Linked DNA regions of Homo sapiens: region 1 is linked to region 2. Evidence: fine-mapped QTL for protein levels in blood plasma. Region 2 holds a variant in brackets. A gene starts in the other region. All regions are shown on their forward strands.

Evidence for each region. PIP is the chance, under the fine-mapping model, that this variant and not a neighbour inherited with it causes the effect. Protein levels are from antibody-based Olink assays in UK Biobank. Linkage for the fine-mapping came from a reference panel and not from the study's own genotypes, which makes the PIPs less certain.
Region 1: it holds the start of CRYBB2, and the variant in region 2 is fine-mapped to the plasma level of the CRYBB2 protein (UK Biobank, PIP above 0.99).

What each region holds. Positions count from the first base shown.
Region 1 is chr22:25,215,603-25,223,935 of GRCh38, forward strand. It overlaps CRYBB2 (crystallin beta B2), which reads left to right and starts at 4,037. Exons shown (of 6, transcript NM_000496.3): 1 at 4,037-4,064; 2 at 5,802-5,881. The coding sequence starts at 5,828.
Region 2 is chr14:72,808,651-72,816,983 of GRCh38, forward strand. All of the region lies in intron 1 of DPF3 (double PHD fingers 3), which reads right to left. Among named protein-coding and RNA genes, the nearest start is that of DPF3, 81 kb to the right of the region's middle. RefSeq lists an enhancer at 1,164-2,363. The variant C/T (reference allele first, on the strand shown) is at 4,791.

The sequences.
Region 1 (8,333 bases), not on the chromosome of region 2:
ACCAAGGACCTCATTTCTTATGGGGAAATTGAGGCCTGGAGAAGAAAAACTTCACTAAATTCCCAGAGCTCAGTAGGAAGCTTTATAGTTTAAAAGTTAAGAACGTTTATCTTGAAGTCAGACTGATGTAAGTTCAAGCACTGGTCCTACCACTTCCTGGCTGTGTGACCTCGAACAAGTTACTTAAGCTCTATGAGCCTTAGCTTCCTTATCTGTATTAGGGGACATTAATAATACCTACTTCAAAGATAGTTGTGAGGATTGAATTAATGGAACCAGACAGTTTCAGGGCTTAATCCATAAAGCCTAGTCCTACTACTCACTAGCTGTGCAAATTTGGGCAAGTGGCTTAGTCTCTCTGAGCCTCAATTTTCTCTTTTATAAAATGGAATGATCAATAAATACAATACTTACATCTTGAGTTTGTTGGGAGGATTAAAAAAAGATGAGTATGGACAGTGCCTGACTCATGTCAAGCTCTGATACAATCGAAATGTTAGGAATTCTTTCTTATTTATAAGGACACAGCCAGGTCTTGAATCCATTCATTTACTCAACAAATATTAACTGAGGTCTATTATGGGCTGACCTGTGTCCATAAAAGATATTCCAAAGTCCTAACCCCCAGTACCTCAGAATGTGACCTTCTATTTGGAAATAGGGTCTTTACAGAAGGAACCAATTTGAAACAAAGTCATCAGGGTGAAGTTGCCTAGTGAAGTCACCTAAGCCAACATGACTGGTATCCTTATAGGCACAGAAATTTAGACATAGAATCAGCCATGCACTAAGGGAAGATGATGTGAAGATACAGGGAGAAGACAGTCACGTGATTAAAGTGATGCACCTCCCATCCAAGGAACATGAACAATTACCGGCAAACACAAAGGGCTGGGAGAGACAAGGAAGGACCCTCACCTAGAACCCCTGGAGCAGGCATGGCCCTGCTGACAGCTTGATGTCAGGCTTCCAGCCTCCAGAATTACACAACAATAAACTTCTGGGGTTTTTTGGGGGACATTTTTGTGGTAAAATACTGCATAGCATAAAATTAACCATTTTAACCATTTTTAAGAGTACAGTTCAGTGGCATTGTTATGGGACCATCACCACTATCCATCCCCAGCTTTTCCATCATCCCAAACAGAAACTCTGTACCCATTAAACAATAACTCCCCATTCCCCGCTCCTCCCAGCCCCCAGTAACCTCTATTCTACTTCCAGTCTCCATGAATTTGCCTACCCTAGGTAACTTATGTAAGTGGAATCATACAATATTTGTCCTTTTGTGTCTGGTTTATTTCACTTTGCATAACATTTTCAAACCTCATCATGTTGGAGTCAGAATTTCCTTTCTTTTTAAGGCTGAATAATATTCCATTGTATGGATAGACCACATAGTGTTTATCCATTCATCCGTTGATGGACATTTGGGTGGTTTCCATCTTTCGGCTATTGTGAATAATGCTGCTATGAACATGGGTGTGTAAATATCTCTTCAATTCCCTGCTTTCAATTCTTTGGGGCACGTGCACAGAAGTGGAATGGCTGGCTCATATGGTAATTCTATGTTGGATTTTTTTTTTTTTTTTGAGACAGCCACACTGTTTTCCGTAGTGGCAACACCATTTTACATTCCCAATTTCTGTTGTTTTTAAGCCACTTAGTTTGTGACACTTTATTACAGCAGCCCTGGGATTTATTTTATGTTATTTATTTATTTATTTTCTTTGAGACAGAGTTTTGCTCTTGTTGCCTAGGTTGGAGTGCAATGCCATGATCTTGGCTCACTGCATCCTCTGCCTCGTGGGTTCAAGTGATTCTCCTGCCTCAGCCTCCCGAGTAGCTGGGATTACAGGCATGTGCCACCATGCCCGGCTAATTTTGTATTTTTAGTAGAGACGGGGTTTCTCCATGTTGCTCAGGCAGGTCTCGAGCTCCCAACCTCAGGTGATCCGCCTGGCTTGGCTTCCCAAAGTGCTGGGATTACAGGCGTGAGCCGCTGTGCCCGGCCAGCCCTGGGATTTTAAAACAAGTACCTACTATGCGTCAGGCACTGGGCTCTGGAGATACCATGGTAAACCAGGGGGACAACTTCTTTGCTTTTGTGGTGCTTATCTTCTCATTGGAAAGACAGAAAATAAATGAGTAACAGAATGTTGGGTAGTGATGAGTGCTGCAAAAGGAAAAGCCCAGCTAGGGGGCTGGGGCATGTGTGTGTAGTGTGTGTGCATGCGTGTGCATGCATATGTGCATTAAGAAAATGAGAGACAGGGGAAAGCAGGTATACTTGACCCAGTCTCCAAGCCTCAGATTGGATCAAGACACAGCCTGGGCTGCAAGGAAGGTGTGTGCACTAAAGAAACATGAGTAAAGGCCGGGCGCGGTGGCTCACGCCTGTAATCCCAGCACTTTGGGAGGCCGAGACGGGCGGATAATGAGGTCAGGAGATCGAGACCATCCTGGCTAACACAGTGAAACACCGTCTCTACTAAAAATACAAAAAATTAGCCGGGCGTGTTGGCGGGCGCCTGTAGTCCCAGCTACTAGGGAGGCTGAAGGAGGAGAATGGTGTGAACACGGGAGGCAGAGCTTGCAGTGAGCTGAGATCGTGCCACTGCACTCCAGCCTGGGCGACAGAGCGAGACTCCATCTCAAAAAAAAAAAAAATAGAAAAGAAATGTGAGTAAAGGCTGGGCACCCATGTGGCAGCGATGGGGCCAGTGGTAGGGATCTAAGAGCAACTCACTCTAGGACAGTGGTTAAGAAACAGGCCGGGTGCAGTGGCTCATGCCTGGAATCCCAGCACTTTAGGAGGCCAAGGTGGATGGATTGCCTGAGCTCAGGAGTTTGAGACCACCCTGGGCAACATGTCAAAACCCTGTCTCTAACAAGATACAGCAAAAAAAAGAATTTAGCTGGACCTGGTGGCGCACACCTGTAGTCCCAGCTACTGGTGAGGCTGAGGCAGGAGAATCGCTTGAACCTGGGAGGCAGAGGTTGCAGTGAGCCGAGATCACACCACTGCACTCCAGCCTGGGTGACAGAGTGAGATTCCATCTCAAAAGAAAGAAAGAGAAAGAAAGAAAGAGAGAGAGAGAGGGGGAGAGAGAGAGAGAGAGAGAGAGAGAGGGGAGAGAGAGAGAGAGAGAGAGAGAGAGAGAGAGAGAGAGAGAGAAGAAAGAAAGAAAGAAAGAAAGAAAGAAAGAAAGAAAGAAAGAAAGAAAGAAAGAAAGAGAAAGAAAGAAAGAAAGAAAAGAAAGAGAAACAGCCAGGGGCCTTGAGAATAAAATGCACTCTCCATAATTGGCCTCCCTGGCCCTGCAACATCAGGCCCTGCCCACCTTGGCCACCTGGCACAGGCCCTATTTGTCACATGTCATGCTTTAGCTTTGTTAACCTGTTTTCAGGTCTTCTTGAAATACACCATGCTGGTTCCTTGTATATGGACCCTTTCTGCTTGGAACTGTCCCCCCACCCTGTTCCCAGGCTTCCTCTTCTCCATCCCTGAGGGATGCGCTACCTCCCAGGAGCTTTTCTGAATGGCCTGGGCTGGCGTAGGTCCTCTTCCTGACACTCCCCTGGAACAGAGATTGTCACCAAGTGGATGCCCAACAAATATTTGTTGAATGAATAAATGGGTAGATGAATGAAGCCCAGACTCTGCCAAACCACCCTTCTTTACTTGTTCTTCCCCAGGCCCACTGAGATGTTCCTCTGTCTGCCATGCCTCACGGCCTGACTGACCGTACCAGTGAACCCAGCGTACCCCTGGCCCTGGCAGCCGGACGGCTGATGCATGCAAAGCGGGCATCTCCTTGCCCAGCCGCCTGACCGCCCTGGCGCGGCCGAATCTGAAAGCTAATGACATTATTGTGCAGAGACACAATGTCTGTGGGCATTTGCTGACCCGAGCTTTGGTGAGAGCTTAATCCAGCATTCTCACCCTGCTTTTCGCAGGAGCACAGCGGTCACTCATCTTGGCACCGGCACTTCTGGGGAAGGTATAAATGCCACCTCCCGCTGGCCGAGCTTCACGGCACTCGCAGGGGCTGGTGTCACTGGTAAGATTGCCTCTCTTGCTTGTCTTCCCTTCTTTCTCTCATCCTCACCCCTGTCCGCAAGCATGGGAGCACCCAGATTCTGACAAGTGACTTTGGGCAGAGACTTCAATGCTGTTAGCCTCAGTTTTCTTTTCTGGTAACTGGGAAGGGGGTTAAAAAGCCTTCTTTATTGTAAGGATTCAAGAGAAGTTAGGGGATCATCCAGCACAGTGCCTGGCACACAGTGGGCATTGGGGCAATGTTCTTTATTATTAATATTAAACAGACTATCAGCATCCTTGTTTCGCCAGTCGCTGAGGAGGAGAATGTAACTGAGGGTTTTGCAAGAATCAAACCAGTGACAGTTCAGCATTGTTTCTAGGTGGGTGAGTCAGTTTTCCTCCACATCTGCAATTAGGGGGCACCCACTCTGTGCCTAGCCTCTGGGAGTGCTAGGGGATAGGATGCAGCCACAGGTATGTGACAGGTCCCAGCAACAGGTGATTTCAATGCCACTAAAGCATGGTAGAAATGACTCTAATAATGCCACAATTGCTGCCATTTGCTGCATGCTGAGTGTGTTCTGGGACCACGGCCAAGTGCTTCCGGTTTTATACATTACATAATTGAATCCTCACAACCTGTTCACAGGTATTATTAGACATCATTACTGTCCCCATTTTATAGAACAGGAAGTTGAGGCATAGGGAGAGGATGAGACCTGCCCAGAGTCTCAATTCTGGCAGGCAGCAGAGACTGCTCCTGAACTGGACCAACTGAGCTTCTTCAGTCTGTGAACACTCAGGACTGGGAAGTGATATGGCAGGACCTCAGGCACTCTGACAAGCCCAGAGGGCTGGTTTCTTGCGGGAGAGCAGTAGATTTGGCTGCCAAGGTGCTTAACTGCATTTCTTCCTCCTGGGAAACATCCAGTATTGGCCTTTCATGTGGAAGGGGCTTCTGGAAGCTGGCGTTATCTCTGAAGAGGGAGGCCAGGCTTCCTCTCTTACCCCTGGGGAAACACAGCCTGGTTTGACCACCCCTTCTGCAGGAAGGGGGAAGAGGCTGACAATTTTCCAGGCTTTTCTGATGTTCTCACTAGCTAAGGCAGGTCTACCCTGCTGCCTGCCACAGTGCCTGGATTTCTACCGTCGCACCCATTTCTTCTCTTTCTTGTAATGTGGGTTCTGTATCAGATGATTTCACTAATGGGGGAGTAAAACCAGTGGCAGAGAAGAGAAATCTAGGTACCAGGATGGGGAGAGGAGTCCCAGGGAGAGGGTGGGAGAAGGAGCAGGGGAACAGGGAACTTTGTGAGTTCCTAAACTGGGCACCACCACACCACCAAATACAGCCAATGCATAGGTTTTGTTTGTTCCACACAATTTTATTTAAGAAATTACTGCATAAAGGCAGAAGTTCTGGGATTGACCATTCTATATTCTGTGTGGTATCCATTGTCTGGGGTTGAGTGTTGGGAACCCACTTTGGACCTCATTTAAGCTCTAGTTTATTACTGCTCTCTTTCTTTGAGTAGACCTCGTTTTTCCCTCCTCCTGCAGCTGGCCTGGATAGAAATAAATGAAGCTAAGGACAGAAGTTGAAGTAGCTGCTTACGGACCCCACAGCTCTGGGACAGTCTGAAACCAGGAGAAAAAGAGAATGTTTGGGGCCAGAGGGGAGTGGTCTCAAGGCCCCACAGAGTGAAAAAGCCAGTGGCCCCTCCAGGTCCTCACTGCTGCTTCCCATGTCTTCCAGGTCATTCCTGCACAGGACAGTCCACCATGGCCTCAGATCACCAGACCCAGGCGGGCAAGCCACAGTCCCTCAACCCCAAGGTGGGTACCTCTCAGAGGAGGGGGCATGCAATGCTCCTCCCCCAGACTTAGTTGCCCTTCTGTAAAATGGGCTTGGCATCTTTCTTCATGGGTACCCCCTCTCGACCCCTGCCCCTCTCTGGGACTCAGTCTCCTCTACCCACACAGTTGGAGCTGATACTGAAAGTCCCTCCCCAGCCCATAGCTGGCATGCTGGGATTCCCAGTACCAGCCTCTGGCTTTGGAGACTTCAGTTTCTCTCTCCCTTACCTGTTTTGCCACACCCTATTGTCTACAGGGCTCCCTGAAACTGGAGCAGACCCTCATTCTCAGTCAGAGATGGGATTAGTAGATGGAAGGTGGGTGTGAGTCCTGGCTCTGCACCTGCTGTGTGATCCGGGCCAATTATTTGATCCCTCTGAGCCTCAGTTCCATCTCTATAAAAGGAGGAGTCAGATTTATTGCACAGGGAAGTTGTGAGAGCCAAAGAAACCAGGCTCAGCCTAACACCCGGCCTGGGGTGCGCATCCACCTAACACCAGCAAATAATGCCGCCTTTGATTTCTCATCCACCTGTCCACCCAAGGGCGGCAGGATCTTATCCCAACGTCAGAGGCTTGTCACACCCAGTCTGCCCTCAAACCTCTATCTAGGCACGGCCACCTGACTGCCCTCCTGTGCCTCCCTGCTTTGGTAGCCCCGGGCACAGGTTCCTTCAGGAATGGCCCCTTTGTCTGACTCAGTGCCTCCTGGGCCAGGGAAGCCTGAGCAGATACAGCCCCTCACCTGCTCACCCCAATCTGTCCCTTTTAGGGCTTACTTTCCAGAAGAAGGACAGACAATAAATAAATGAATATATGATTTCCAGTAGTGAGAAGTGCTACAAACAATTGTAAACTAGGGGAAGGGGCTCCTGAGAGTCACAGTGGTTGTGTTAGCTCAGGTGGTCCAGGAGGGTCTCTCTGAGGAGCTGACTTTGAGCAGACACCTGGGTCAAGTGAGGAAGCGGCTATATGAAAATTGGGGGTGCCTTTGCCAGGCCGAGGTGGGAGGACTGTTTGAACCCAAAAGTTTGAGCCCAGCCTGGGCAACATAGTGAGATCCCATCTCCACAGAAAAATGAAAAATGGGGGTCAGGGTTGATGAGAGCATCCAGACAAAAGGAACAGCAGGCGCAAAGACTCCGAGGTGGGAATGAACTGGGTGAGTTTGGAAAAAAGCAAGAAGCTCTGTCCACTAGACCTATAATGTGAGCCACATAGGTAATGCAAAATGTTCTAGTAGCCACATCATAAAAAGTAAAAAGAAATAGGTGAAATTAATTTTCATATTACATTTTATGAAACCCAATATATCCAAAAGATGAGCATGTTAATGTATAATCAATATAAGAATTATTAGGCAGATATTTTACATTATTTTTTCCATTCTGAATTTTCAAAATATGATGTGTATGTTACGCTTATAGCACAGTATAAGTAATAATATGGACTAATTACATGTGCTCAGTAGCCATATGTTACTAATGGCTGCTGTGTGGGACAGTGCAGGCTTAAAGGATTGGATAATTTGTAAAATTTTGCCCTCTACTCTATTGATTAATAACAACGCTATTGAGCTCCTGGGTCCTCTGAGCTTCTGGGCTTTCAAATGCATGGAGAAACTGCTCTTCCTCACCTGCCTACCCCTATTCAGGTGGGCACCCCAGGCCTGCTACCTCAGAAACTGCATTTGATCAAGATCCCAGTGTTGTGTGCACAGGTTAGAGTCTGCAAAGTGCTGCTTCAATTTCATCTGCATCAGACAAGTCTGGGCTTCAATTTCAGCTCTTCCACTTATTCACGTGGGATCTGTAGCATGTCTTTTAATTAACATAATTATGTCTCCCACAAGCAGCGCAAATACTATGTGCTAACCACCCACAAGCCCTGGTCTCCCAGGCCAGGGTAATAATAAACTCTAGCCCCGAACTTCCACATTCTTGAGTCCCCATTTGACAGATGAGGGACCTGAGGCCCAGAGTATTGAATTGCTTTTTAGGTTTGTGCAACTGGATGTAACAGAGGACACATTGGAGCCCTTGTCTCCTGACCCTATCTCTGGCCGAGTCAGTGACCGTAAAGGGCTGGGTCACTGACTGTAAAGGCTGGATTGAGCCCGTGGAATTTGCCTCTAAGCCCTGTGCCTTTCCCTTTCTTTGTGTGGCTAATCCCAGGCCTGGGAGAGAGGGCTATGTTTACCCAGCCTGTGCTGACCGTGTCGATTCTGTAGCTGCCCCGACTGAGAGTGTGCTGACCTGAGCCCATCTTTTCATCCAGGGGCAGTTTGCTGGGGAAGTGTGGCTGGAAAACCTCTGCCTCCAAAATTCTCACTGGAGGCCGGGCGCGGTGGCTCACGCCTGTAATCTCAACACTTTGGGAGGCCGAGGCAGGCAGATCACGAGGTCAGGAGATCGAGACCATCCTGGCTAACT
Region 2 (8,333 bases):
GCCAACATTTTCAGGGATGCCTCCTATTCTGGGAGGAGAAAAACCAGCTTGTTGCTTCCCTCCAGTAGCACAAAGCAGCAGGGAACCGGAAAGAGAGAGGGGTCTGAACAGCTTCTTCTACCAGGAAACCAGCCAAAGGTCTCCGGGCATGTAAGGACATCTGTTTTCAGAAGCTATGGTTTGGATTTTGGCATTCTTAGGAGTCTAGGAGCAATCCTACTAATTTGGGTTCTAGCTCCAACCATACTACCTACCTGCTGTGCGAACCCAGGCAAGTGATTTTACCTCTCTGAGCCTCTGTTTGCTCATCTGGCCCTCTAGACAAGATTAACTTGGCAGTGCCTTGTAGCTCTAATATTCATACTCTCATAAGACTGGATTTGTTCTCACAGGAATGAATTAGTTCCCTGGAGAGTTGGTTGTTAAAACACCAGGGCCCCCTTGGGTTTCCCCATCTTCACACGTGTCTACTTTCCCTTTGACCTTCCCTGCCATGTTGTGATGCAGAAGGAAAGCCCTCGCCAGAGGACAGGGCCATGCCCTTGAACTTCTCAGCCTGCAGAACCATAAGCTAAATAAATCTCTTTTCTTTATAAATGATCCAGTTCCTGGTATTCCATTACAGCAACACAGACAGACACTCCCACATCATCGTCACACAGGGCTTGGGCTGCCTGGCCCTGGCCACTGCCTGCCAACACCAGGCCTGGTCCCTCCATCATCTAGGACCTTGGGGAACATGGCACCGGTGAAGGGCATGGGGGTTACCAGAAAGAGTGAGAAGTCGGCAGGTCAGCACGGCCACACAAGCCACCCTCTCCCAACTTATGTGCAGGCATGATGGCTCCCCATCCACCAGCACTCCTGAGGCCACTACACCAGGGAGGAAAGAAGTGCATGGGGAGGCCTGGTCACACCTGCCCTTCCTTTCAGAACCCTGCATGTGGCTGATGGCAGGTCCTCGGCGCCTGGTGGAAGAGAAAGGGAAGGTGGCACTGGGCTCCACAGGCAGTGATTCTCAGCCCTGCTTGTCACTGGGAGCTGGTTCCTGGGTCCCACCCCAATCTCTTATGATTCCATAGATCAGGAGGAGACCCAAGAACCCAACTTTTCACTTAGCTCTCCAGGGAATACCAATGCAAACGGCCACTGACCACCCCTTGAGCGCCCTGTGGATGAGAGGGTGGAACTAGAGGTTCTAGAAGCAAGTGCTTGAGTCCCCTCACTAGCTGAATGACTCTGGGCAGTTTACATCTCCTTTCAAACCCTCAACTGCCCATCTGAGAAATGGGGATATAAAAGCGTCTGCTTCTTGGGGTTATTTAGAGAAATACATGAGAAAAAGGATGGAAAGCACTTAGCACTGTGCCTGTACATGTTGAGAATCTATAAGAGAAGATCCCCTCTTACTATTCAGGGGTGACTTGTACAAATGCCTTCTTCCATAGCAATCCCTTACTAAACTGGAGCATTTCATAGGGAAGATGCGAATAAGGGCAATGAAGCCTCAGATACAGAGGGCAGCGGAGTGCTGAGACACCTCCGTGCCCTCCCACAACATCCCAGTGCTGTGGTCCAGCAACATACCCGCCCCATCCCTCCAACTCAGAACATGCTCATTGATGTGCCTGAACCCAGGCTAAATGGGAGCACACCTATAGTGGGGGTTCCCCTGTCAGAGATATGCACTGCAAGGGCCTGCGGTCCAGGACACAGAGGAAGGAAGAGACGGGCGGAGAATGTGAATCACATTCATGCCAGGGTGTGTTCTAATACGTCAGCAAATGTGTACCGAGCTTCCGGGCTGCAGAGGAAGGTGGGCGTGTGTGGGGTTAGTGACTTGAAGGGAAAGAGGGGCATGAAAAAGAAGGGGGTGAAGAGTTAGAACTGGTGCAGCAGCTGGGTCTCACACACAAATGGCATGACTCTACTTCACAGGAACTACTCAGAAAGGGAAAAGAATAACTCTAAGAAACAAAGATCTGCCTCCAAATCCAAGAATGGCAGTAGAAAATAGGGTCCCCCACCCAGCAAGCACCCACATCACGTTTCATCAGAAGAACTCTCTATTCTCAGCCAGGCCTGGCACACTGCCTTGACCTTCCCGATCCTGGAGCTGGGCCCTGGGCTCAGAAGACCCCAGACTGTCATTGCTGGAAACAGAATCATTGCAGATATAGTTAGTCAAGATGAAGTCACACTGGAATAGAGTGAGCCCTAATCTTACAGGACTAGTGAGTTAGTCCATTTGTATTACTATAAAGGAATGCCTAAGACTTGGTAATTTGTAAAGAAAAGAGGTATATTTCACAGTTCTGCAGGCTGTAGAGCAACCACGGTGCCGGCATCTGCTTCTGGTGAGGCTTCAGGAAGCTACAATCATGGCGGAAGGTGAAAAGGAGAGCAGGCGTGTCACATGGTGAGAGCAAGACCAAGGCAGCAAGGGTGGGAAGTCCCAGACTTTCAAACAACCAGATCTTGTGTGAACTAACTGGGTGAGACTTCACTCATCACCAAGTGGACGGTGCTAAGCCATTCGTGAGAGATCCACCCTCATGGTCTAATAATCTCCCACCAGGCCTCACCTCCAACATTGGGAATCACATTTCAGCATGAGCTTTGCAGGGGACAAACATTCAAATCATATCAATTAGTGTCCTTATAAAAAAGGGAAGTTTGCCCCATGAAGGAAGAGATTGGGGTGATGTGCCTACAAAGCAAGGAATGCCAAAGATAAGACTGCCAGCCAAGCCCCAGAAGCCAGCAGAGAGGCCTGGAACAGATTCTTCCTCACAGCCCTCAGAAGGAACCAACCTTGCCAACACCTTGATCTTGGACTTTTAGCCTCCAGACTATGATAAAATAAATTTCTGTGAAGTTACCCAGTCTGTGGCACTTACAGCCACCCTAACAAACTAATACACCCAGAACCTTACTATCCTTCACCACACCGATCACCAATGAGGCAAGTCAGAAATTTCCAAAAAGTCTCCACATTTATTTTTCTACCCAATAAACCAGACATGATAGAGGAATTCAAATATAAACAAGACATAGGCCCTGCCTTCCAGAGCTCCTAGGCACACAAATGTTAGTCACTTTACACTTTGCAAAACACTTTCACATATATTGTCTCTTGTAGATCCCCCCATCTCACATTGAGATGGGAAGGGCAAGCTGTAGGTTACTCCCATTCTGCAGATGAGAACACTGAGTTTTGGAGAGTTGGTGGCTTGCTCCAGGGCACCCAGCCCTGGAGCGGCAGAGAGGGAGCTGCAGTAAAGTCTTGAGTCCAAGACAACATTGGTGTGGCTGTTTTCTTTCAGCCTGTCTTGCTGCCTCTCCTGCCGTCTTGGAACCTCTTGCCTCCTTCAAACAGAAGCCCCTGCACTGAGGTCTCTTGTATCTAAGATCTGCCCCAAGTGAGCTCCAGGAGGCAAGGAGGGAGGCCAGCCATGTTAAAGACCAAGTTAAAGACCAAAGTGGCTGCAGCACCATGAGATACCAGTGTAGTCCCCCACCTTCTCTCATAGTCCCTTACCCTGAGGCTGCTCCCACCAGCCCCGCTTACCTTTTTCCCATCCCCACCCCCGGCCCCCAGCCTCTCCCATCCCACAGGCAGGGCAGGTTCCTGGTAACAGCATTGCCCAGTGTTGTCAAAATAGCGAGGAGCTGGAAAGAATTCCAGAATGAAATCTATGTGCCTCTGCAGCCTCCCAACTGACTGCCACTGTGGCAGCTAAACCCGCTAATGTGCTAAGCGTTTTCTGGCAGGGCCAGGAGGCAGGGTTGGTATTTTGGGAGCTGGGAGGGGCTTGGAGGCAACATCCTCGGCAAGTCTGGGAAGGAGGTGGAGGCAGGGAGGCAAAGGGAACCGACCCAGAACACTTCCCATGACGTCACCGAGAGCCACCTGAGCTGCACCTCAGGATTCCTGAAACACTGCTGGCGGAGCGGAGAGTACGGAGAGTACGCTGGGCCCGGTGGGCAGGGCTCAGCAGGGCATGGAGGCTTTGTAGCTAGGCCTGGGGGGAGAGGGCGCTCTAGTATGCCACTTGTCATGTACACTTTTTCTGCTGACACAGAGCAGTGTGCAATGCGTCCGGGAGGCTGGGCAGCCCAGGGCTGGCCCAAGCTCTGTTTGCCTGAGTTGGCAGTGGCAGGGCCCATGGTGACCAAACAAAAGACGGGAAGCCAAACGCCCAGAGGCTGGCGGGTGAGGCTCCCTGAGAGGGCTCTGAGGATACAGGCACTGGCGAAGAAGGGCCAGGGGCTCATAGGGATAGGAATGGGGTTGGGGGCAATGGGAACTTGCAGGCAGGGTCCCCTCTGGTTTCCCAGACACACCGCATCGCCTCTGGGCATCAGCCTCTCCACACTGTCCTTGCTTTTCGGGGGCTCCTTCGAAAATGCTTCAAACCATGACACCAGGAAGGGGAGCAAACCACCAAATCTGAGATCCAAACAAGGTCCCAGCATTCCTTTGTCCCTGATGGGCTTGGCTCCAAATTCTGGGAGAAACCAGAGGGTTTTGAGAGAGTCAGGAGAGGGGTTCAGGGGACAAAAAATAGGGCTGGTGAAGAATTCCTTCCGGGAGCCGTCTGGTAGCAGGGAGTACCGTGGGTGGCAAGGCCGTGCTGCTCAGGTGAGGGGACATGGTGTCATTCTGGGAACAGATGAGCCAGTAAAACCCTGACAGGATTCAATCTGGAGGAAAAAAATCCCAGCTGATAGGAACTGCTGAGCGCTTGCAGCTTTTAAAGCCCCTCTAGCAAAAGGATCTGCAAAAG[C/T]TTTGCAAACTCTGACCACGCAGCCAGTCAGCCACTTCCCAGCCCACAGCAACGAGAGAGTTTTTGCTACATCAGAACAAACCCACTCACAAATATCTCATCCTGGCCTCCCCCCCGGCACCCATTCCTTTTGGGTCTGTGTGCCTGCCTTCCTCAGAAATGACATTTTGTCAGAGCAGTGAGAGATAGTGTTGCAGGGGCCAAAGGCAGCCAGGGGGCTGGACTGCAACTAGGCTCCCCTGCTCACTAGCGGCTGACCCCAGGCAGGGCACTTAACCTTTATGAATCTCATTTTTTAATCTGCAAAAATGCAAATAATGAAGCTGCTCTTACAGAGTTGGTGAGAGGACTAAATGAGATGATGGATGCTGGGGCTCGAGCACAGAGATGAGGGGCTCCATGACGGCTGGTCCCCCTCCTTCCCACCTTCCTCTCCAGGGCCCTCCGGCACCATAATCAGTGTGGGAAGGATGCAGAACAATGGGAGTTTAATTCAGAGGTTGGCGAGGCAAAGGCATACTTTAATAGAATTCTCTCTCGCCCAGTACATGGTTTCTTGTCCACCCCACCCACCTTTCCCCATCTCTACCGGCTGATAGTCTCTCAGCTAGTAGACCTTTTCTTGTTTAGCAGGGCCACTTTTTTTAAAAACTCCAGACGGGTACCCTCCATGTTGCAGGCGACGTGGCCCTGGATCACTCAACTGACTGTCATTTGAATGGTGCCCCCAGAGTGAGGCAATGGTGCAGCCCTCCTAAGGCCCTTCCTGAGTGTCCCTCCTTCATGAAGATGATTCTGAGGCTTCCCAGGCCTTCACCCTTCTTTGAAAGCCCATAGCAGTTCATATGCACTTCTCTTCTATGCTCACCAAACTCTGCCTTCATCATACTTGGGGGATGTGTGTGAGAGCGAGAGAGAGAGTCCAGCAGGGATTAGATCTGACTTTTATATTCTCTACAGTGCCTGGCACAATGCTAACACATTTGATGAGGCCAGAATTACCCTGATACCAAAACCAGTTAAAGACATTACCAAAAAGAACTTTTTCAATATTTTAATTCTTACCTCATACCCTAGATAAAAATTAACTTGAGCGGGGTGTGGTTGCTGACACCTGTAATCCCAGCACTTTGGGAGGCTGAAGCAGACGGATCTCTTGAGACCAGGAGTTTGAGACCAGCCTGGCCAACAAGGTGAAACCCCGTCTCTACTAAAAATATAAAAATTAGCTGGTCATGATGGCAGGTGCCTGTAAGCCCAGCTACTTGGGAGGCTGAGGAGAACTGCTTAACCGGGAAGGCAGATGTTGCAGTGAGCCGAGATCGCGCCACTGCACTCCAGCCTAGGCGACAGAGCGAGACTCCGTCTCCAAAAAAAAAAAAAAATTAACTCGACATGGATCGTAGAGCTAAATGGAAGACTAAAACTTTCAAACTTCAGAAAGAAAACTTGGAAGAAACTTTTTCTAACCTTGGGTTAAGCAAAAATTTTCTTAAATAGGACATAAAATGCATGAGTCGTAAAGGAAAAAAATTGATACATTGGACTTCACCAACATTTTAAATGTCTACTCTTTGAAAGGCACTAATATGAAAATGAAAACACAAGCTACAGACTGAGAGAAAATATTTGCAAAACATATATCTGATAAAGGATGTTTAGTCAGAATATATAAAGAACTCCTAAAACTCAATAAGAAGACAAATGACTCCATTTCTTTTAAGGTCAAAGAACTGAACAGACATTTCACAAAAGAAAAGATACAGATGGCCAAAAAGCACATCAAAAAAAAAAGGTTCAACATTATTAGTTAGCAGGGAAATGCAATTAAAATCACAATGAGATACCGTTAAACATCTATTATAATGGCTAAAATTTAAAAGGCTGACAATGCCAAGCTCTGGCAAGGATATAGAATAACTACGACTCTTACACACTGCGTGTGGGAATGCTAACTGGTACAGCCACTTTGGAAAGCAGTTTGGCAATTTCTTTTAAAGTTAAATATACAATTATATTTTCATTTCTCCCAGAGATTTGCTCAAAAGAAATAAAAACATATGTCTACACAAAGACCTATAAATAGGAATATTCATAGCAGCTTTCTGCATAATGGCCAAAACTTGGGAACACCCAAGTGCTCATCAGTTGGTAAATGAATAAGCAAGTTGCCATGCAGCCACACAGTGGAACGCACCCATACATGCAGTAACATGGATAAGTCTTAAACGCATGGTATCAGTTCCTATTGCTACTCTAACAAATTACTACAAACTCAGTAGCTTAAAACAACACAGATTTACTGTCTTACAGTTCTGGAGGTCAGAACGTCCGAAATCAGTCTCACTGGGCCAGCATCAAGGTCAGTTTCCTTATCTTTTTCAGCTCCTAGAAGCCACCTGCATTCCTTGACCCATGGCCCCTTCCTCCAAAGCCAGTTGTGTTGCATCTTCTATCTAACTGCTTAAGGGAACAGGACTTTATCAAGGCACAGAGCCACAGCAAGTATGGGAAACATATAAGTAGTTCCATATTTCCAGGGTGTGTAATGTAACATTTCGAAGATAAGGAAACTGAGATTCAGAGAGATCCAATATCTTACCCAAGGTCCAGGACACAGTGAAAATCATGTTCAACCCTAAGGCCTCTGAATCCAAATCCAGAGTCCACGTGAGCCCTCAGACTTCCCTGCCTTGACCGTGGATAGTCATCTCCACCTTGTCTCAGAGCCCTGCACTCCCACCCTTGTACACTGCACCAGCAGCTAAGCCTGTGGAGCCAGGCAGAACCCTGGGCCTCCCCACCTCCCCACCCTGGGACCAACAGATTCCCAGCTCCAGCAGGATAACATCATAACCTTAATAAGATTGACATTTGCATCCTGTTTTATATTCATCAGCATTCTTACACTTACGTTATGTTATCTGGCCTTCTCCATCGTATGAGTCTAATGGTGCAGATATTCTCCACCCCACATTCTCCAACCCTCAGAAAGCTGAGGTACTTTCTTATACAGCAAGTGGGTAGAAGCCAAGATCAGAACCTTACCCCCAACCCACCCCTTGATACCAGAAGAGCCTATTGACTCAGAACAAAACTCAGGCAAACCCCCCACCTAGCTGAGCTTCCCCTCCTTCATCTGCAGGATGGAAAACAGGGTAATACCTGCCCTGCCTATCCTGATACATCAGGCATAAATGGAAAAAAAAAAAAGGAAGTAGTATGTAAAAGCACTTTGGAAATGTTAAAATGCTATGCAAATTATAAGGAACTGTTCTGATTATACTCTCAAGAAATGTCACAAATTTTCTCCAAAAGTGAATAATTGTCATTACTTTTCAACTTCATCCCCTTGAAAAGCCAGTTTCTCCTCCTGTCATCTTTTATTTCTGGTTAAAGCAGAGATGTTATACTCAACATTCCAACTGGAATATCAAGATCAATCTTTAATTCCTCCTTCCAGCTTCACCCTTTCTGAAATCAAGAACAGGCAATTCTCTACTCCACCCACCATCTCATCCTCAGTTTCTCTTGCCATCTGCC